2 separate regions of the Homo sapiens genome follow, and region 2 is linked to region 1. The links come from fine-mapping of genetic effects on gene expression. A gene starts in region 1. The other region holds a variant in brackets. All regions are shown on one strand. Distances are between the middles of the regions.

Region 1 (8,465 bases):
AGGAACCCCAGAGTGAGAGGCAGGAGCCCCCATCTCAGGGGCGTGGGCCCAGGCTCCCTGTGTGCCACCCCACGTTCCCCCGATGGGAGGCAGGAGTCCCTGAAGATCCAGGCCCAGCCCTGACCGGGGGTGGGCACAGAGGTGGGGAGCAGCCTCTGGGATCGGGTCTCCACCTGTGCCCTGCCGGAGCCAGCCCCTGCGCTGAATGGTACTTCCGGCTTCTGGTCTCTGTGGGGAGCGGTGCCCAGCCTGGTGCTACAGTGACCCAGGGGTCCTTAGGCGAGGCCCTCCCAGGCTTGGCCCCTGCCCAGACCCTGCCCTCCTGGGGAGCTCCCGCCCAGCCCCTAAATGGGTGAGGTGGGGACACTTTAGCCCTGACCTTCCATGGCCGAGCTGGGCGCTTCCTGAAGCCAGACTGGGCCTCAGAGGTCCACTGCACCGGGATCCTGGAGCTGAGCTTCTCGAGGCCAGGGGTGTGGGTGTGGTGTCGGGTGTGGGTGCGGGTGTGGTGTTGGGGGTTGGGCCGCCCCCTCCTCCCGGCCCTGCTACCTTTGGGATGCGGCAGCCTCTGACCAGCCTGCTGGACCCCACATTGGACAGATCGTTCAGCACCCCCAAATTGCCATCTGTCCCCCACAGACAGCCAGCCTAGCCCTGGCTCCAAAGCTGCAGAATTGGCTGAGGCTTGGCCATAACCGTCTTTGGACCCCATGGCCAGCAATGCACATATGAGCCTCAAGTCCCAGGGACATATCTGCTCCCCTATCCTCTGGCTTGTCCCGGGCTGCCCTGTCCTCTGCGCCGTCCCCGGCTGCTGGGCGGGCCTGACCTCCAGGGTGGTGCTGGGAGAGGTGGCCAGAGGCAGCCAGAAAGGGTGAGCGGAGAGGTGGCCGTCCCCCATGTCAGTGAACACCCAAACAGACAGGCACAGAGAGGAGGGCTGGGTGAAGAGTGGGTCCCATGTGCTTTGAGCAGCTCAGAGATGCCCTGAGGAGGGGCTGTCCCACGTGGCCCGTCCACTCAGGCCTCCTTCAATCACAGAGCAGCTCCCTTGACGCAGGGAGGCCTTGGGGAGAATTTCTTGCCCCTAGAGGAGCCCTGAGCTGCCCCCACCGCACCCGGCCCTGGTCTCCCCGGCTACAATCTCAGGGGTGCTCCTGCTCTGCCCCTGACTTGTCCAGAACACTCCACAGCGTCTCAGTGATCCCGGGCACTGCCCTTCCCTATGGAAGATCCTCAGCGGGGCAGCTCTGGCAGGAGTGAGCCTCTGGGGCCGTGAGGCTTGGGTACCTCTGAAAGGTGGGGTGTAGAGGCTGCCCCTCCCCAGTCCCAGGCTGGGGGAGTTGATCCCAGGCTGCAGGTGGGTGGGGCTCACGAGGTCCCCATGAGTTTATTTGAGGCTGGTGGACACTCAGTCGAGCTCAGCTCCCACCAGTCACTGGGACAGCCTCGGCCCTCAAGGGCAAACCATTGGTGGGGATGCTGGACAGGGTCATCACTGCCCCCGGAGGATGCTGGCCGGGGCCCCAGGGTGGAGACAGCTTCCCTCCAGGAAAAGGTTGGGGTCAGTTCTGGGAGCTTAGGCCCAGGCCACCAGGCTTGTCCATGACCTGCCTGGGCCGCAGGCAGGGGGATGGCCTTGGTGACCTCTTAGGGTGGAGGCCAAGTCTTTGCATTTTGTGACTCAAAGAGACTGGTTCCCAGAGAGCAGGGTGGGGCGGCCAGCCTTCTTCCTGCCCAGCCCTCCGCCAGGCTCCACTAAGGTCCTGCCTGGCAGCCAAGCTCAGAGCAAAGGGAAGGGCACAGAGAGTGTGCAGGGTGGTCCTTGTCCCTGCCCAAGCTGCAAGAGGCTCTGCGAAGGTCCCTCCTGCCCCTGTCCACCTTGCACAGTCCTAGCCGGGGGAGGAGGGGAGAAATCTGGCGTGCCAGGAGCTGGCAACTGCCCAGCCCTTCCTGGATGTGGTGAGAGATGAATCTCCAGCCCTCGGGTGGGCCCAGGTGCACCCATGAATCAGGGCTCGTGGGCAGCTCCCACTCACTGGTCCTCACTCAGCCGTGTCTGGGGAGTGTCTCTGACCACCTGCTGGCCATCTTGACCACAGGGACTGAGGAGTCCGTCCTGAACCGAAGCATGATCCTGTTAGCTCTTCCAGCTCTCCAGGCGCCAACGACCATATGGTCTCGGTAACGACTGGTCAGGGAGGAGAAGGGACATGGGACCTGCTGGGCTTTCTGCAGCCCACTAGAAAATGGGGAAGAGGAGGGGCTTGGTCCCTGTTCCAGGCACTGGGTTTGAGGGCTGGACACCCGAGATCCCTGGGAACCCCTCTGGCTATGGGAGGACCCGGCCCCATCAGACTTCAGAGTCCCTCCCTGGCAGGTGACCCAGGCCTGCCCAGACGGAAGCCATTCAGACCCAGAGCCACGTGTCCTGGGTCTCCCTGCCCCGGGCCACCCGCCACCACACCCCAGAGCTTGCTCACCACCGGGAGGCGCTCTTGTCCTGGACCAGCCTAGCCTGGGTTGGGACCTCCAGCCAGGCCAGTCAGCGAGCCACCAGCCCCACCAGAGTGGAATGACAGCCAGGACTCAGCTGGCAGCGGGCAGGAGGCCAGTCTTGTGGTGATATCCCAGCCGCAACTCTCTTCCTGCCCCTCCCCTGTCCTGACGGCAGCCCCCAGCTCTGTAGCTGAGCCAGGCTTGCGGGCCACGCGGGGTCCCGGGTTTAGGCACCCCACCCCTATCTGTTCCAACAGACTCTCCCTCTCAGCCCATGGCACAGATGGCATCTGAGCTAGCAGCACGCTGCTGCTTCAGGCAGGGGTTGATAGGAGGTCCAGGTGGAGGAGTGGGTTCTCAGGACTGCCTTGGCCCCCCTGCACCGCTGCCCTCCTTCTCCCTGCCTCTCAGGTGCCTCCCGGCTCCCTGGGACTCACTCCCTCACCTTGGCCTCTGCCTGGGATGCTACCCGGCCACCCCCACCAGCCCTGACACCAGTGCTGCCCACTAGCCCCTGCTGCTACATAGGCATGCGCCTCCCCCAGTCTGGGCTCCTTGACCCCCGGGCACTGGGGAAGGGGAACAAGGAAGCAGTCCACACCAGCCCACTCCCAGGGCTCGTGCGCCCCCAGCAAGGGATGGGCCACAGAATCCAGGAAGAAGACGGGCTCCGGCCCCCAGTGGTCGCCAGCAGCCCCGTAGAAGCTCACCACCCCACCCCATCCGACTCACTCCTGCTCTCATGTACATTTCCCAGCTCCCCACCCGGGCTCACCTTCAGACCAGCGGCAGCGCTCACCCACCACGCCTGCCAGGGAAGCTCAGTCCCAACAGAATCCAGAGAGGGCCCACCACATGTGCCTGCCTGTGACGGCCTGTGACAGGGCCCCAGCCAGGGCCAACGAGCTGGAGGGGCCCAAGGAGCTGGGTGCAGCGCTGGGGTAACAGGACAGCCCCACGGGGTGCTCCCGAGTCTGGACCAGACTCGGGGTGGGGAGGCCCAGACTCGGCGGGGGGCAGACTTGGGGTGGGGGGATTGCTGGGGGAAGTTGGGGCCTCTGGCAAGGGATAGGGCCTGTGCTCAAGCCCAAAGGTGCCCCAGGCTGAAATGGGCACCCAGGGGTCACTATCAGAGCCCCAACAGCTGGCCATGGGGGAAGCCATGCCCAGCAAACCTGGCCCTCGGGACCCTGCGGGCCAGATCAAGTTTCTCTACCTTGGCCTGAGCTTCTCATCAACACTTCACTTGCTGGGCGTTTCAGGACCAAACTCTCAGGGTGGAAGTGGGGCTTGTGTCCCCTTCTGGGGTGGCAGGGCTCGGAAAGGGAATGATGGTAGGGGCTGTGAGATGTGGGTCCTGGCCCCCAGTGGGAAGTCACCAGAGGCCTCGGAGGCGGGCATGGCTGAGGAACACAGCCCCTGCCCTATCAGGGCCGCTGGGTTGGTGGGCCCTGCCAGCAGGAGGAGGGTGGGCAAGGTCCCTGCCAGCTCTGTCTCTGGGACCAGTGGGCAGGGGCCTCTGCCTCACCCCCACGCTGCCTCAGCTGGGGCAGCAGGCCCAGGCCTCTTGCATAAGCGCCCTGTGGGGGACGAGGCTGCAGCTGTGCCTGGCCACCCCATCCCCCAGCATCACGAGTGTTCAGTGGGCTGTCCCCGGGCCCTGGGTGGAGGCCAAGCCTGGCCCATAAATAGGGGTCTCCTCAGTGCCCTCCGCTCCTCCTGCACACCTCCCTCGCTCTCCCACACCACTGGCACCAGGCCCCGGACACCCGCTCTGCTGCAGGAGAATGGCTACTCATCACACACTGTGGATGGGACTGGCCCTGCTGGGGGTGCTGGGCGACCTGCAGGCAGCACCGGAGGCCCAGGTCTCCGTGCAGCCCAACTTCCAGCAGGACAAGGTGAGGGGCTTTCCTGCGTCATCCCCAAGGGCTACAGGACCCTGTCAGGGGAAGGGCACTTTCCGGCTGGGTCTTCCCCCTGGGAGGAGTGAGCGAAGTCCCGCAGTGCCGGGCAGTGCCGGCCAGGGACTGAGCGGGCGCGCAGGAAGGAGGCTGGGTAGCCGCCCGAGGAGGCTGCCCGCGAGAAGCCCTCCCTGGGCACCGCGTCCCGTCTCCCCTGATGGGCCACGCAGACACCGGGCCACACACGCGCCCACGCCAGCCAGACACGTCCACCCCTGTGGGCACGCGACCCCCAGAGGACACACGAGCGCACGTTCCACACCTGGGTGCCAGGACACGGGCGGGTGGGGCACAGGGATGGCGACAAACACTCCGTGCGCGGTGGGGGTTGGGAGGGACGCGCACCGCACAGACAGCCGGCGACGCGCGCTCTCGCCCGGGAGCTGCTCGGGGAAGCGCCGGAGCGCGGGTCCCCGCGCCGCGCGCCCCTCCCTGGCGTCGAGGAGAACCCCAGCGGTCCGCAGAGCTGAGCCGAAGACCCGCCCCGATCCCCGCCAGGAATGCGACGTCCTCTGCCGCCCGCTGTATGGGCCAGGCGCTCAGCCAGGGCACAGAATCGGGACCGGGGGCGGAGGGGCCGAAGCTGGCTGGTGGGCGGCGTGCGAGGGTGAGGGACTGTCCTCGGGAGGGGCGTGGCCAGACGGGGGTGCTGGGTGTCAGGGGCGTGGCCAGCTTCTGGGGCTGAGGCGTGAGGGGCGGGGCCATCTCCGGGGGAGGGGGAAGTGGGGCGTGGTCATCTCCTGGGGCGGGGCGTGAGGGGCGGGGCCACCTCCCGGGGCGGGGCGGGGGCCTGATGGGCGTGGTCAGCTCCTGGGGCGGGGACGTGAGGGGCGGGGTCAGCTCCTAGGGGGGCATGGGGCGTGAGGGGCGCGGTCAGTTCCCTGGTTGTGGACATGAAGGGCGGGGCCAGCTCTTGGGGCGGGGTCGTGAGGGGCGTGGTCAGCTCCTGGGGCGGGGATGTGAGGGGCGGGGTCATCTCCTGGGGCGGGGATGTGAGGGGCGTGGTCAGCTCCTGGGGCGGAGATGTGAGGGGCGGGGTCATCTCCTGGGGCGGGGATTGAGGGGCGGGGGTCAGTTCCTGGGGCGGGGCGTGAGGGGCGTGGCTGCTCGGGGGATTGGGCGTGGGGGCGGGGCCGGGTTGGAGACCGGAGGAGTAGACGGCAGAGGCGCCCCCGCAGGTAGGCGCAGGTGGGTCCGGAGGGTCCTGGCCGACGCGGGTGGGGGTCGCTCGCCGCAGTTCCTGGGGCGCTGGTTCAGCGCGGGCCTCGCCTCCAACTCGAGCTGGCTCCGGGAGAAGAAGGCGGCGTTGTCCATGTGCAAGTCTGTGGTGGCCCCTGCCACGGATGGTGGCCTCAACCTGACCTCCACCTTCCTCAGGTGGGACAGCGGGCAGGTGGGTTTCTGGGACGGAGAGGTCCAGGGACACCCTCGGGCCTAACCCCTGACCCTGAGGTCACCCACCTACAGGAAAAACCAGTGTGAGACCCGAACCATGCTGCTGCAGCCCGCGGGGTCCCTCGGCTCCTACAGCTACCGGAGTCCCCGTGAGTGGGGCCTCCACCGGCCCCCTGGGCCCAGCCTGGGGGCGACACTTGCCGGGACGACTCTGGGCCAGCCCCCTGCCGCGGAGATCCATGGGGTGGGAGGTGATGGCTGCCCCACCAGCGTCAGAGGCAAAGGCCAGGCCTGGGCGTGACTACCCATGCACAAGTGTTAGGGACAGAGAGACCCTTCCTCCAGGGGGTTGGATCCTCTCTGGAGCCCACCATTGTCTTGTCAGGCCCCTTCCCTGCCCTCTGGAGTTTTCCCCACATAAGCAGCCCCCCAAGGCCCCTCCATATGCCTCCTCCCAATTCTCCTCCCCAGGACCCAGGGGTTTCCTCACTCCCACCTGGGGAATGGCTCCCACGGGGAAACCTCTTCACTTCCGGTTCTGGCAGCGACTTCTGCGGCTGCACCAGGAATCCTGGTTTTCTGAGCCTGGCTCCCCCAGATTCTGGTTTGGGGACAGGGTTCACAGGCTGTGCAGGCGAGAGCAGGGCACTGGCTGGAGAGCAGCCGGGTGGGGGAGCATCCCGGGCCAGCCGAGGGGCTGAGTGCCCCCAAAGCCCACAGGTGCACCCCTTCCCTGAAGCAGAGGTGAGGTTTGGGGGGCTGAGTCCCCGACAGGGTTGTCTCTTGGGTTCCCAGACTGGGGCAGCACCTACTCCGTGTCAGTGGTGGAGACCGACTACGACCAGTACGCGCTGCTGTACAGCCAGGGCAGCAAGGGCCCTGGCGAGGACTTCCGCATGGCCACCCTCTACAGTACGTGCCCCGTGGACGCCGCCCACACGCAGGCCTGACCAGAGGGGGCTCCCCAAGACCCAGGGCAGGGCACACAGCATCCCCCCCGCTGAGGCCAGCTCCGTCTCCACCCTGTCCCAGGCCGAACCCAGACCCCCAGGGCTGAGTTAAAGGAGAAATTCACCGCCTTCTGCAAGGCCCAGGGCTTCACAGAGGATACCATTGTCTTCCTGCCCCAAACCGGTGAGGGGTCCTAATCTGATGGGGAGAGGATCAAGGTCAGATTAGAGGCAGGCAGGCAGTCTCCTGACTGGGGGAGGCAGAGGGGAGGAGGTGGCCCCGCCCTGCTCGAGGCCTGGGCCAGGGACAGAGGGGGTGAGTGTTCAAGTCAGAACCTCCCTCCCGCAGCCCCTTCATGAGGAGCCCCCTCCATGGGGGACATGGAGACCAGGCGCCCACTCTGTGCCAGGCCCCAGCAGCTCCCAGGATGTGGGGCTTCAGCCTGGTGGGGGGCATAGGGTAGAGGGTGCCCATGGGGGATACAGGGGAACCAACCATACTGGGCTCAGGCACAGCCTCCTAGGGGTGGACAGCCTGCTCTTGGCAGAGGTGGAGAAAGACCCTCTCTTTGTTTCCAGTGCCCAGGGAGAGGTGGGAGGTGATGGGGGATCTGTGCAGTTTGGGGGCTCAGTCAAGACGAGCTCTGCGTTACGGGAGGAACAGGAAGCCCAGTGGGAAAATTGGCCTAAGTCTGGGGTTCTGACGACAGCCCCTGGCTTCTTTCTTGGCAGATAAGTGCATGACGGAACAATAGGTGAGCCACTCCATTCATTCATTCATTCATTCATTCATTCATTCATTCAACACACATCCACCCAACCCACTCTGCGATGGGATGGATCAGGGCCCCAGGACAGCCTGGTGCTGCAGACCCATCCTTCCCGATGGCTGCAGTCCAGGGCCGGGCGGGAGACACTGGGGCTGCCCACATTGATGGGTGCACAGGTGTGAGGCTCAGAAGGAAAACCTGTCCCAGTGGCTGGAACAGGGCTGACTCCTGAAGGCTCATGGTTGGGGGGTGCAGGTGCGAGGCCCCAGGCAGACAAGGCCAAGGGGCTATACCACAGGGACCACCTGGCAGCAAGGGTGTCTGGCTCCTGGGCTAGGAGGAAACCAGGGTGGGGGAGACAGGATGGGAGGGAACAGGGGATGGAAGGGGAGGGCCAAGGACGCTACATGGATGCCGTGGGACAGCTCGGAGAGCAGGCTCAGGGCGGATTCACCCACCACCCCCAGGAGGGAGGCCTAGGCTGGAGCTGGAGTCTGTGGACCCTGGGGCTGGGAAGGGTGGAGTCTGTAGACCCTGGGGCAGCGGGGATCCAAGCCCCAGGGATGGATCTTGCTCTCTCAGCGGGGCTCAGTGGGGCTGGGGGCAGAGAAAAGTCCCCGTAGCCCGCACCTGCTCCATCGACTGGAGTGGAGGTGGGCTGGGGTAGACTGCAGTCCTCCATCCTAGCCTTTCGGTCACACCCCTCAGGACTCCCCAGGGCTGAAGCTGGGATCCCGGCCAGCCAGGTGACCCCCACGCTCTGGATGTCTCTGCTCTGTTCCTTCCCCGAGCCCCTGCCCCGGCTCCCCGCCAAAGCAACCCTGCCCACTCAGGCTTCATCCTGCACAATAAACTCCGGAAGCAAGTCAGTAGAGCTGGCTCCTGGC
Region 2 (12,090 bases), 370 kb before region 1:
GAGCCCTCTATGGCGCCCCCGTGCCAAGATCCAATCTCCCCTGCCCAAAAGTCAGCCCCCAAATCTGGGCTCCCCGAAGTCCAGCTTCATCCCAAACCCCTCTGCCTATGAGCACGAGGTGTCCCTCCACCGCACCCTGAACACATGCAGGTCCTCCCAGCTCCGCATCGAGAACTGCCTTCCCCATCGCCTCAGCTGGGACACCATCCATAAAGGGCTGGGGGAAAGCCCCCTCCTCCAGGAAGCCTGCCGTGATAGCCCACCTGCTGGGCTCCACTTGCTTCTCTGACGGATGGCCATGGCCAGGCACATCACCCCCATTTTCAAGAGGAGGGGGTTTCCTGGGGTCTCCCAGCAAGTCAGTGGGGAAGCTGGAAGCCGCCACAGGCTGAGCCCCATGCCTTGGGGCTGCCCCACACAGGCTCAGAGAGGCATCGGACCGGGGGCCTGGGCCTCCACCACTGTCTGCGAATTTCAGCCCAGAATCCCCTGCCCTCCCCCAGCCCCACCCAGGCCACCCTTTCCACGAGGGTGCCCGAGGTTCCATCTCCGGGCTTCCGCCTGCCCAAGCTGTTAGGGCCATGCTGACTGGCTTATCAGCTCCTTCCCCTCCCACCGCCCGCCTGGGGGCCTGCCCAGGCCCAGGGCCCTGCCTCTTCAGGCGCTGCCAGCACACTGCACGTCCAGGCTGGAGGGGACAGCAAGCAGCGCTGGGGCAGGGGAGGGCGGCAGGAGGCTGGAGGCTCTCCATGTACTCACTGCTCCGCTGGCCAAGGGTGCCTGAAGGTGGGAACCAGAGGCCATGGCACCCCAGGACTGGGTGCTGGGTTCCCACAGGGAAGCTAGGTGAGCTCAGGGCCCTCCTGCCTCCCGGGTTGTTCTAAGAGCCTGTGGCCCTCCTGAGATCACGGCGAAAGTGAACTCGGCCTCCTGGGGTCACGGGGAACATGAGCCCGGCTTCCTGTTCTTGGGGCTCACAGGGGCACCGGGGCCTGGGTCAGGAGAGGCCACTCAGTGCTGGGCAGCCGAGGGTCAGCAGGGCTACGGCCAGCAGATTCTCGGGCCTGGAGGCGCCCTGTGCCTCATAGCTGTGGCCACAATTCTCAGCACCCCTGAGGGCTTGCCCAGGCCGCCCGTCTGCTCCATGTGAGAGGAAAGGAGTCCAGGCCGCCTGAGCTGCAACTGCTCAAATCCACGTTCTTCTCGTCATCTCCACGTTTAGTTCTACAGTAACTCATTCATTTCATAAGTGGCACAATATTGGCTCACTGCAGCCTTGACCTCCCAGGCTCAAGAGAGCCTCCTGCCTCAGCCTCCCGAGTAGCTGGGACTACAGGTGCGTGCCACCATGCTAGCTAATTTTTAATTTTTTTTTTGTAGAGATGAGATCTCCCTATATTGTTCAGGCTGGTCTCGAACTCCTGGACTCAAGTGATCTTCCCCGCCCGGACCTCCCAAAGTGCTGGGATTCCAGGCATGAGCCACCGCACCTGGCCCATTTAACAAGTCTTTACCAGGCCCCTAGTGTGTGCAGGCTCTGATCCTCCAACCAAACAAGCCAATCGGGATCGGTGGAGACAGCAGTGGGTTCAGTGCTGGGGCCTCAGGCAAGGCCTGTGCCCAGGCCGGGAGGAGGGCAGAGAGCCAGCGCTGGGCAGAAGGAAACCCAGGAGGCGTGTTCTGGGGGTTTGAGGTCTGTCTGGACACCAGTGTGGCTGGCACCATAGGATCCGGGCCACGTGGGATGTAGAGGGGGAATCCCGTTCCAAGCCCCTCCCCTGGACGGCAGCTCTTGGCTGGGCCCCAGGCAGGACCTGAGGCTATTTCCAACCCGCCAGAGGCAAGGCCCCGGGGCCGGCTGTTTGCCTGAGAGACCTGGGTGACGCCAGCTGCCTGGGTGGCTACAGAGGCACTTTCAAGAGCCAGGCACAGGGACAGAGCTTTGCTCCAGCCTCAGGGGTGCAGCCGTGCTCTGTGGGCCAGGGGAGCCTGCAGCAGGCCTCCAGCTCCCTCCGCCCTGCAGACGCCCAGCTCTGCAGCCTCGTCCCATATCCAGGCCCTCACACTGAGCTGCCTGAAGGCCCCCAAACTCATGAGGCTGCTGGGCCTCTGTCCAGGCTTTCCCTCTGCCTGGAGTGCCCCTCACCCCTGCCCTGGATCACCCAGCGAGTGTCTGTCTCTCTTTAGGTCCAGCTGAGATGTAACCCCCAAACCTTCCCAACAAGGCTGGCACTGCTGGGGTCCCACACCCCACTTTGCTCTCTAAACGGGAGCTGGACACCTGTGTCAGGCTGCTGGGAGACGGGGGCACCCACAAGCCCTGACGTTACCCCGAAGGCCCCTGGGAGGCCCAGGCAGTGGGAAGGGACGGCCTCTGGGAATCCCCCTTCTGCCTGGCCTCCCTCTGTGTGGAGTCATGAGGAGTGGATGGCCCTCGAGGGGAGCCCGTCCAGCCAGCCGCCCTCTTGAGGGAGAAGCCACGTGGCCGTGAAGCTGAGAGGCCCTGCACAGGGACCTGTCCTGCAAGCAAGGCCGGCTCCGCCCTGGGAGTCAGCAGCCACCTTTACTGTACGTGTGAGAGTGAAGCCGCCTCCTCTAATTACACCCCTGGACCTTCTCATCCGCCCCCAGCCCTTCCAACTTCAAAGGCCTCTGGCCCCTGGCAGGGAGGGAAAGTTTCTGGGTGCCTGTGAGTACCCTGCCTCCTTGAGGCAGAAGCGTGGGCTCCATCCAGGCTGAGGTGGCAGCCGGGCCCTTTCTCCCGGGCCTGGGGTGCGGTGGGGCTGCCAGCTGGCAGTGTGGGCAGTGCCCTGGCCTGTGATGCCCCCACCTGCTCGTGGCACTTTTAAGTTGGGTCCATCCTGAGTTTGCCAACTGGCTGCCCTGAGCTGCAACCTTGGCCCTGGTCCTGTCCTCAGGGGGTCCCAGCCAGAGACACACAGAACCACACCCAAAGACCACAGTCTACCCTGCATAGGGGTGGGGTCCCAAAGACCAGAGCTGGGGCAGGAGGGGAGCTGACGGGCAGAGTGGCCCGCGGACGCCCAGGGGCAGCTGGTCTGGACAGGTGTTTGGGGAGGCGGAGCAGAGGGTTCCCAGGCCAGGGACCCAAGGGGGTGGGCCCAGTGGCTAATTCCAGATGGAGCCAACATGCACCAGGGAGGCTGTGCGGGGAGGGCCCGGACAGTGACGCCCCCACGGCTGTAGCATGGAGTCGCCCCGCCCTGCCTTGGCCCCCAGCAGCTGGACAGCTCCGCACAGATCCAGCGGCTGGATGGTTCCCACAAGGCCAGGAGGGAATGAAGGCCGGGTCAGAGCACCTGGGCTGAGACACCAAACAGAGCCACCTGCGTGAGGATACCAGGGTGTGGAGCCTGCTGGTGACGTTAGCAGAGGCCCAACGTCCAGGAGGAGGGAGGTGATTTTCTCTCTCCTCAACAGTCCAAGGCCAACTCACTGGCCCAGGAGGCCTCCCTCACCCCTGACTGCTGAGTTGCTGCTCCCAACACCTTTCTGCCCACATGGTCCTTTTAGAGCTGCCGCCCCCCAGCTAGCCTGGTGCCAGCCAGGGACTGGCAGTTCCCTTCTGCGTCCTCAGCCCAGCCTGAGGACACCTAGAGGAGGTACACAGTCAGCATCAGCTTGGTGGAAACATATTCCCTCCCTCATGGCTTTGTCCTCAAAGAAGGGAGGAAGAATAAAGGAGGGGAGGAGGGAGGGAAGAAGAGAGGGAAGGAGGGAGGGAGGAGGGAGGGAAGGAGAGAAGGAGGAGGGAGGGAAGGAGGGAGGGAGGAGGGAGGGAAGGAGAGAAGGAGGAGGGAGGGAAAGAGGGAGAGAGGGAAGAAGGGAAGAGAGAGGGAAGGGGAAAGGAAGGAGAGGAGAAGGGGGAAGGAGGGGAGAGGAAGGGAGGGAGGAAGGGGGAAGGAGGGAGGTAGGAGGGAGGGAGGGAGGGAAGGAGGGGAGAGGGAAGGAGGGAGAGAGGAGGAAGGGAGGGAAGGAGGGAGAGGGAAAGAGGGAGAGAGGTAAGGAGGTGAGAGGGAGGGAGGAGGGAGGGAAGGAAGGAGGGAAGGAGGGAAGGAGGAGGGAGGGAGGGAAGGAGGGGAGAGGGAAGGAGGGAAGGAGGGAGAAAAGAGCTCAGGAATCCTTTAGCCTTTGAAGTGGCTCCCAGGGGGACAGCCTCACTGTCCCTGCCCCAATTACACAGTTACACAGTAAGAGCACCAATAAAACCTGAGCATTTGATCCCAATTTCAAAGATCTTTGATCCAGCCTGTGCCTCCCCTGTCCCTGTGCCCGGGGCGCCGGGTGGGGCCCAGCCTGGCCTCCCTGGTCCTCCTGCAGAAGCCCCTCCGCATCGCTCTCGGCCGGGTCTGTATCTCTCCTCCCCATCTTCTCTGGATGCTTCTGTGACTCTCTCCTGACTGGGTCTCTCTCCTTCAGTCAGTCTCCCACTGTCTCTCTGTCTCACTGTCTGTCTCTTTCTGTCTCTTTGTCCTCTGGGCACTGGCCCCACTTCCTGGGAAAACAGGAGCTGCGGGGTCTCCTTGTTGAGGGACAAATGCCAAACGGGCCGGGGCCATCTGCTCAGGGGCCCTGGAAAACTGGCCCAAAGCTCCAGCAAATGGCCCTGACGATGGGGCCTTCCCCGCCCCTGCCCTCTGCGGGGCTCTTCCTGGAGAGGCTGTAAAGAGTTACTGAGTGTGTTTCCCCCGGGTCTGTTGCGGGCAGGCGGGGTACCTGGTGGCTGGGGGAAGGGAAGGCATGGCATGCCCCTGCTCTGAGGAGGGCATCCCAGGGAGAGTGGGGGTCTTCTCCCCTGGAATATGGCCCAGACCCCTATCTCAGGAACCTGAGGCCCCCAGGGCAGGGCCAGGCGGGTGGGCGGCCATGGCCAAATAGGGGCTCCAGGCAACTCCCGGTCAGTGTTGCGCGGCCCCTCCCTGCAGCTGCCCCTCCAGGGTGTCCACAGGACATTCCCAGTGCCTGCTGCACCCCCAGCCAGCTGCCCCAAGGTCACATTTCTTGGCAGATAACCCTCCCAGCACCCACTGACTGGCCCCGGGCCCCAGACTTTTCCTGAGCCCCCTCTCCAACCCCCCGCACTTTTTGGGGACCCACTTTCCACCATCACCGCTAGGGACAGGTCGGGCTGGGGGCAGGTCAGGCTCGGAGGGGAGGCCCCTGGAGGAACAGTGGCTCTGAGGGTGAGCAGCTCCTTGGGAAGCACCGCTGTAGCCGGGCCAGAGGACCGCGGCTTCTCTGCCTTTCCCTCGGCAAATCTTTTCCGAGCACCTGCTCTGCCAGGCCTGGAGCAAGTCAGTTGAGGTGCGGAGGAGACTGGGCACTCTCTGTCCCCCAGAGCCCATCTGTGGGGTGGTGGCAGCAGCCACAGGCCTTCAAGCGCTCAGGCCTGGGGCTTGGAGGGTGACCCAGAGGTCTGCGCTGCCTGGAAGGCTGCCGCCCCTGCGCCCTGGGGTACTAGATGGCCCTGGCATGCGCCTTGGAACGAGCGGGTGGCATTGGGGTATCCAATCTCCCCCCGCCCCTCCCTGCGATGCTGCCTCCCTGCCAGAAGTGCTTGCCAGTGGAATTGCCCCTCCCACCGGGCCGGGCAGTGGAGGGCAGAGCTATCAGAAGGCTCCCCAGCCCTCATGGGCTTCAGGGGACAGAGGGACCAGGGAGTCGGGCAGGTTTGGCCAGCTGCCACCTCCCTAAGGCACCTGCAGGGAAGGGCGGCAGTTTCTAGGAAGCCAGCTGGCAGGGTGGTCCTGCCCAAAGGGTTACCGAGGGCTGCTGTGTGGAGTGGGGCTGCAGCTCAGCCAGGCCTGGGGAGGCGATGTGACTGCAGCACTGGAGAGCCCCTGCACAGCCCGCCGCCCTGCGCTCCAGAACCTACCGTCCTCTGGGGCTCCCAGGGCCAGGTGTCGGCTTCACAGCAACAAGGCCCAGGACTTGCATGGGGCGGGGGAGGGGGGTGGGGGGGCGGAGGGGAGGGCGACTTCGGTGTTTTCCAGCATTATTCTAGTGGCCACAGCCCCCAGGCCTGTTTCCTCTG[T/C]AAATGGAGATGGCAGCCCACCCCACGGGCGCTGGAGGGGAGCTGACCCTCAGGCCAGTCAGGAGCCCTGTGACGGGACTCGCTGGAGGGCACCCACCCTCGGGACCAGGCTCCCTGGACTCCAAGCCTGCGCCCCCACGTCCACCCTGCTGGTAGGAGGCCTCGGGGTGTGGCCCCTGCCAATGAGCTGCTCCATGAGGCACTGAGCCATTGACCTCTGCCCCAGGCTGTGTGGCCCGAGGCTCAGCGCTCAGCAGTAGATATGGGCATGAGGGGGAGGTCAGGTCAGAGCCGCAGAGCTGGGAACTCAGCGCTCAGCAGTGGACGGTGGGTTCCGGGAGCAGAAAAGGTTCTGGCCTCTCCCTGTAGCCTGAGCTGGGAAGGCGGCCATGGGGGGCAGGTGCGGCCAGGCAGGGGAAGCGGCCATGGGGGGCAGGTGCGGCCAGGCAGGGAGGGCGGCCATGGGGGGCAGGTGCGGCCAGGCAGGGAGGGCGGCCATGGGGGGCAGGTGCGGCCAGGCAGGGGGGGCGGCCATGGGGGGCAGGTGCGGCCAGGCAGGGGGGGCGGCCATGGGGGGCAGGTGCGGCCAGGCAGGGGGGGCGGCCATGGGGGGCAGGGGCGGCCAGGCAGGGGGGCGGCCATGGGGGGCAGGTGCAGCCAGGCAGGGGGGGCGGCCGTGGGGGGGCAGGTGCGGCCAGGCAGGGGGGGCGGCCGTGGGGGGCAGGTGCGGCCAGGCAGGGGGGGCGGCCGTGGGGGGCAGGTGTGGGCAGGCAGGGAGGGATCCCTACAGGTGGCAGCTCACGCTGCAGGACCAGCGGCCCCAGGAACACAAGGGCTGCCCTGTGTGTGTCTGGGGGACCAAGGGGGTGAACCTAGGCAGCCGTAGACCACAGGCTGGGTGGCCACTCATGTGGAGTCCAGGGGACCCAGGGAGCTCCAGGAGGCCTCTGGAACCCTCCAGAACCTTCCAGAACTTCACACTTGAATTTTGTTCTGTCCCAGGCAGGTTCTCCAGCCTCAGGTCCAATGGCCAACTCATGCCCAGGGCAGGCCCAGTGTGGGGCTTGGGCGCCGAGGGAGGGACCGCACACCTTGAGTTCCTGCCGAGTCCAGAGAATGGAGGAAGTGGCCAGTGAGGGCCCAACTTGCTGGTGGGCCTCTCTGAGCCCAGCATCCTCTTCTGAAATGGGGGCGTGATGTTCCTGCCTCCCAGGGAGATCTGCAGACCAGCCCTGCGAGGTGTGGAGTCAGCCCCTGCGCGTGCCCGGTCCCCACTCACATTGCCACCTGCCTCCGGTGTGGCTGCGAAGTCGGAGGGAGGAGAGAGCCAGCCAGGGGTGTGGGCGCCAAGATCAGAGACTCGCACGCTGCTGGACGGAATGTGGACCGGCCCAGCTGCTGGGTCACCTGCCGGCAGCTCCCGAAACAACCAGTCACCACGAGACCCAGCAACTCCACCCCTAGGTGTGCGCCCAAGATAAACGGAAGCTCCTGTCCGCACAAACACCCGTGCGGCTTCCTTCACTAAGGGTGGAAACGGCCCGGGTGCCCATGGGTGGGTGACGGATGAACCGGGTAGACCGTCTGTACAATGGAATATTTATCCTTCCGCCACAAAAACAGAAGAAATTCGGACGCAGGCTTCAGTACGGACGGGGTTTAAAGTTGTGATGTGTACGCCACAGTCCGTGTGTGATTCCATTCCCGAGAAGCCCAGCGCTGGCCAGCCCCTGGGAACAGAAGGTGGCTGAGTGGGTCTTTATGGCTGGGGGGCTGGGGCTGGGCTGATGACGTTTATTTTTGATGAAAATGTTCTGGGCCAGGCTTTGTGGTGGCTCACAACTGTGATCCCAGCACTTTGGGAGGCCGAGGCGGGCGGATCACCTGAGGTCAGAAGTTCAAGATCAGCCTGGCCAACATGGTGAAACCCCATCTCCACTAGAAATACAAAAATTAGCTGGGCGTGGTGGTAGCACGTGCCTGTAATCCCGGCTACTCGGGAGGCTGAGGCAGGAGAATTGCTTGAACCCGGGAGGCAGAGATTGCACTGAACCGAGATCGCGCCACTGCACTCCAGCCTGGGCGACAGAACGAGACTCCGTCCGAAAAAGAAAAAAGAAAATGTCCTGAATGGACGGTGGTGACGGCCGCACGTAGCTGAACGTGCTGGAGATGGTGGAATCGCCACTGTCGGTGGAGAAATTCATGGAGCGTGAATTACGGCCGACCCCGGAAAAACGCGGGTTTGAACTTTGGGCTCACCTGCACGTGGATTTTCTCCTTTCTCTGCTGCTCCTGGGTCAGCAAGACCAGCCCCTCCTCTTCCTTCTCCTCCCCAGCCTCCTCAGCATGAAAAAGACCAGGATGAAGACCTTTAGGGTGATCCGCTTCCACGTGGAGACGAGGAAATGCATCCTCTCTTCCTTAGGATTTTCCGAATGGCATTTTCTTTTCTCTGGCTTACTGTATTGTAAGAACACACTATATCACACATTCACGATACAAAAACGTGCATCGACTGTTTATGTTATTGGTAAAGCTTCTGGTCAATAGTAGCCTATGAGTAGTTAAGTTTCGGGGCAATCAAGAGTTATACTTGGGTCTGGCGCAGTGGTTCACAACTGTAATCCCATCACTTGGGGAGGCCGAGGCGGGCGGATCTCGAGGTCAGGAGATCGAGACCATCCTGGCTAACACGGTGAAACCCCATCTCTACTAAAAATACAAAAAATTAGCCGGGCATGGTGGCGGGCGCCTGTAGTCCCAGCAACTCAGGAGACTGAGGCAGGAGAATGGTGTGAACCCAGGAGGCGGAGCTTGCAGTGAGCCAAGATCCCACCACTGCACTCCAGCCTGGGCGACAGAGCGAGACTCCATCTCAAAAAATAAATAAATAAATAAATATAGAAACCCCAGCACTTTGGGAGGCCAAGGCAGGCGGATCACCTGAAGTCAGGAGTTCGAGACCAGCCTGGCCACATGGTGAAACCCCATCTCTACTAAAAATACAAAAATTAGCCAGGCATGGTGGCGTGCACCTGTAATCCCAGCTACTTGGGAGGCTGAGGCAGGAGAATCACTTGAAACCAGGAGGTGGAGCTTGCAGTGAGCCGAGATTGCACCACTGCACTCCAGCCTGGGCAACAGAGCAAGACTGTCTAAAAATATATGTATATATTTTTTTTGAGGTCAAGAGTTTGAGACCTTATAATATATATAAATAGAAGGATTTTCAACTTTGTGTGGGGTTGGCGCCCGAGTCCCCCATTGATCAAGGGCCAATTGTGTATCTCAATAAAGCTGTTAAGACAAAAAAGACTTGCCCAGACTCCCTGAGCAGGGTCAGGGCTGCAGAAGCCAAATGGGCTTGGGAGGGGCTGGCCGGCTGTGGCTCTGTTTTCACTCTGCAGGGTCCCTGGGTGTTTATTCAGCAGGCCTGGGCCCTGCTCCCCACCCAGCCAGAGGCCTCCTCCCCTCCCCGGAGTCTTCCCAGAGGATGTTTTTCCAGGGCCCGGCTGGGCAAATGGCATTTGGATTCTGGCCGGGGAAGCCTGGGGGGACAGTCCCCACGTCCTAGCCCCGTTTGGAAGCAGCCTGTTTCCTCCAGCATCCAGCCAGAGCCCTGCGGATTCATTCTCGGCCACCCGCTGCCCCTCGGAGCTGTGGGACCCCAGGGGGTGCACCTCCTGGGCTGTGCTGGCCTTGGCAAGGCTGGGCAAGGCGAGGCTGGGCCAGGCACCCCTGAGCGTGAGGGACCTGAGGAGGGGTTCAGGCAGGAGCCTCGTGTGGTCTCCCTGTGATGATATTCGGGGCCCCCGACCCCTGCCCGGTGAGGGAGCATGTGGAGCGTCAGGGCACACGGGATGCACAGCTCAGCAGCCCAGGCAGGCCTCTGGTGGAGACGTCCCACACCCCACCCCACCCTCCGCCCCGGCTCCCGCCTTCCCCACCCCCAGACCCGGCCCCTAATCACAATGCACTTCCCACAGCTGGTCCCCACAGCGAGCTCTGCGCCATCCGGATTGAGTGGGGGTGGGTGGGAGTTTTCCCAGAAACGGGCCTGTGAGTCACCAGCCAGGCCAGGAAGTGGCTGCCTCCTGTCCAGCCCCCCAGCTGACCACTGGGCCTCAGTGTGGATCACACAGCAAGGCCATCCATGGTGACCCGAGGACTGACTGAGCGCCTGCTGCCCCCCAACCTCCAGGCGCTCCCAGGCTGTGACTGAGACTGCGGTCAGCGGCCCCGTGCGGGCCCTCATGGAGGAGCACGAAGAACAGGTGCTTCAGGGAGGACAGGATTTTGGGGAGCCCCTGGGGGGGCCTTCCTAGAGGGGAACACGCGTGGGGAGCCCTGAGGTCAGAGCTGACACGCGTGCGAAGGAGGCCTTGGAGGCTGCAGCTCAGCAGGTGGGGCCGGGCTGGGCCCCGAGATGGAGAGGGGAGGCCTTCCCAGGGGCTGTCAGGCCAGGGGTGCCACCAGGAAGCCCAGAGGAGGGGGGGGCCGCTCCTGGGCCCCAGTCACCCAGCCTGGTATATGAGAGTAGGGGGGACCAGAGAGGGAAAGATGGTAGGCAGCCCCAGGCCACACAGAAACCCAGGCAGGACCGTAAAACCCAGGCCTCGACCCGTCAGCCTCCAGCCGCTCTCCGAGGCACCTTGCAGGGGGTGGGATGGCAGTGGGGAGCCTCTCACAACAGGAACTGGGGTCCCAGATGCTGCCCGGAGCCTGGAACTGCGAGTGGCCGTGGCGGTGGCTGTGCTGCTCTTATACGGGACACCCCGGCACCCGAAGGTCGAGCAGGGACCCAGCCCCTGCCACAGCACCTGCCAAGCATCTGGGTGACACTGTGGTCGGGTGGGGCGGGGGGCTTAAGTCAGGTGAATTTGTCAGCTCGGGCAGCTGTGACAAAGTTGCACAGACCCTGGTGGCTTCAACTGCAGGAACTGATTCTCCTGGAAGCCCGAGATCCAAGGGCTGGCTCTTCCGAGGCCCCGCTTCCCGCTCTTGCACACCGTCTTCCTGAGGCGCCCTCACATGGCCATCCCTCGGGGCGTGTCTGTCCCAATCTCCTCTTCTTACAAGGACGCCAGTCATATTGGATCAGGGCCACCCTGTCTTACCTTGACAACCTTTACCTGTCTCCAAACACAGTAGCACACTGGGGCCCTGGGTGCTAGGGCTTCAGCTTGTGAATCTGAGGGCCTTTGTCTGCCCAGGCACTGCCTCCAATAGAACCTTTGGTCCTGCAGGCCGGCAGGTGCCTCTGCCTCCATGCAGCCTGGCCTTAGCCCTGCCTTCATTCCACCTCCCCTCTGGGACTAGGGATGGTGCTGGGAGGCCAGACAGGCTTTGGGGAAGTTACCTGACCTCTCTGAGCCACGAGGTCTTCATTTACAGGATGTGGCTGTGTGTCTCACTGTGACTCTGGGGAGGGACAAGGCTTAGTCAGTGCCTGCCCGGACGCCCACACCCAGCACACAGTAGGTGCTCAGAAAACGCAGCCCAGATTGTTGGAGGCAGAGGGACCCAGGGGCCCCTGGAACAAAGCCCTCGTTGAGCTGGTAGAGACCAAGGCCAGAGAGCCCTAGGCACCTCCCCCGTCTCCCAAGGCCTCTGGGGACCCCCTTTCCACCGAGACCCCTCTGCCCCTGCCCCTCCGGTGACTCGGTGGTTCCCACGTCAGTGACAGCAGGGCCCCTCCCGCCCAGGACAAGCACCACCGCAGGCTGGGGCTGCCTTTCCCTCCTCCGTCTCCCCTCTGCCCACTCGGATCCCACCAGCCTCCTCCAAGGGCCTGTCTGGCCTGCCCAGTCTGCGGGACTCCAGCCATGGTGACGATTCCCCACCATCTCTTGGGAAGGACTGGAGTCATGGTTCAGCTCCAACTGGGGGAGTGCTCCGGTTGCCAGCGGCCAGAGGACCCCGGGGTTGGGGCTGATCCTCGTCAGTCACCCCATCACCAGCTGAAGACCCCCAGCGCCTCCCATGCCCCCTGAGGTGAGGGGGCTGCCTGGAGCATGTGCCCCTGGGGTGAC

What was found. PIP is the estimated chance that this variant, and not a neighbour inherited with it, causes the effect.
Region 2: its variant is the best candidate, but not a certain one, in a credible set for the expression of PTGDS in pancreas (GTEx, PIP 0.72).

Annotation. Positions count from the first base shown.
Region 1 is chr9:136,973,293-136,981,757 of GRCh38, forward strand. It overlaps PTGDS (prostaglandin D2 synthase), which reads left to right and starts at 4,212. Exons shown (of 7, transcript NM_000954.6): 1 at 4,212-4,400; 2 at 5,701-5,840; 3 at 5,931-6,007; 4 at 6,654-6,770; 5 at 6,891-6,992; 6 at 7,541-7,563; 7 at 8,287-8,450. The coding sequence starts at 4,287. The coding sequence ends at 7,563. It also overlaps LOC124902312. RefSeq lists an enhancer at 5,272-6,251.
Region 2 is chr9:136,604,386-136,616,475 of GRCh38, forward strand. It overlaps LINC01451 (long intergenic non-protein coding RNA 1451), which reads right to left. Exons shown (of 3, transcript NR_135288.1): 1 at 9,739-12,090; 2 at 8,318-8,518; 3 at 7,643-7,785. Among named protein-coding and RNA genes, the nearest start is that of LINC01451, 6.8 kb to the right of the region's middle. RefSeq lists silencers at 302-482, 10,932-11,226 and enhancers at 1,088-1,937, 2,788-3,637. The variant T/C (reference allele first, on the strand shown) is at 6,056.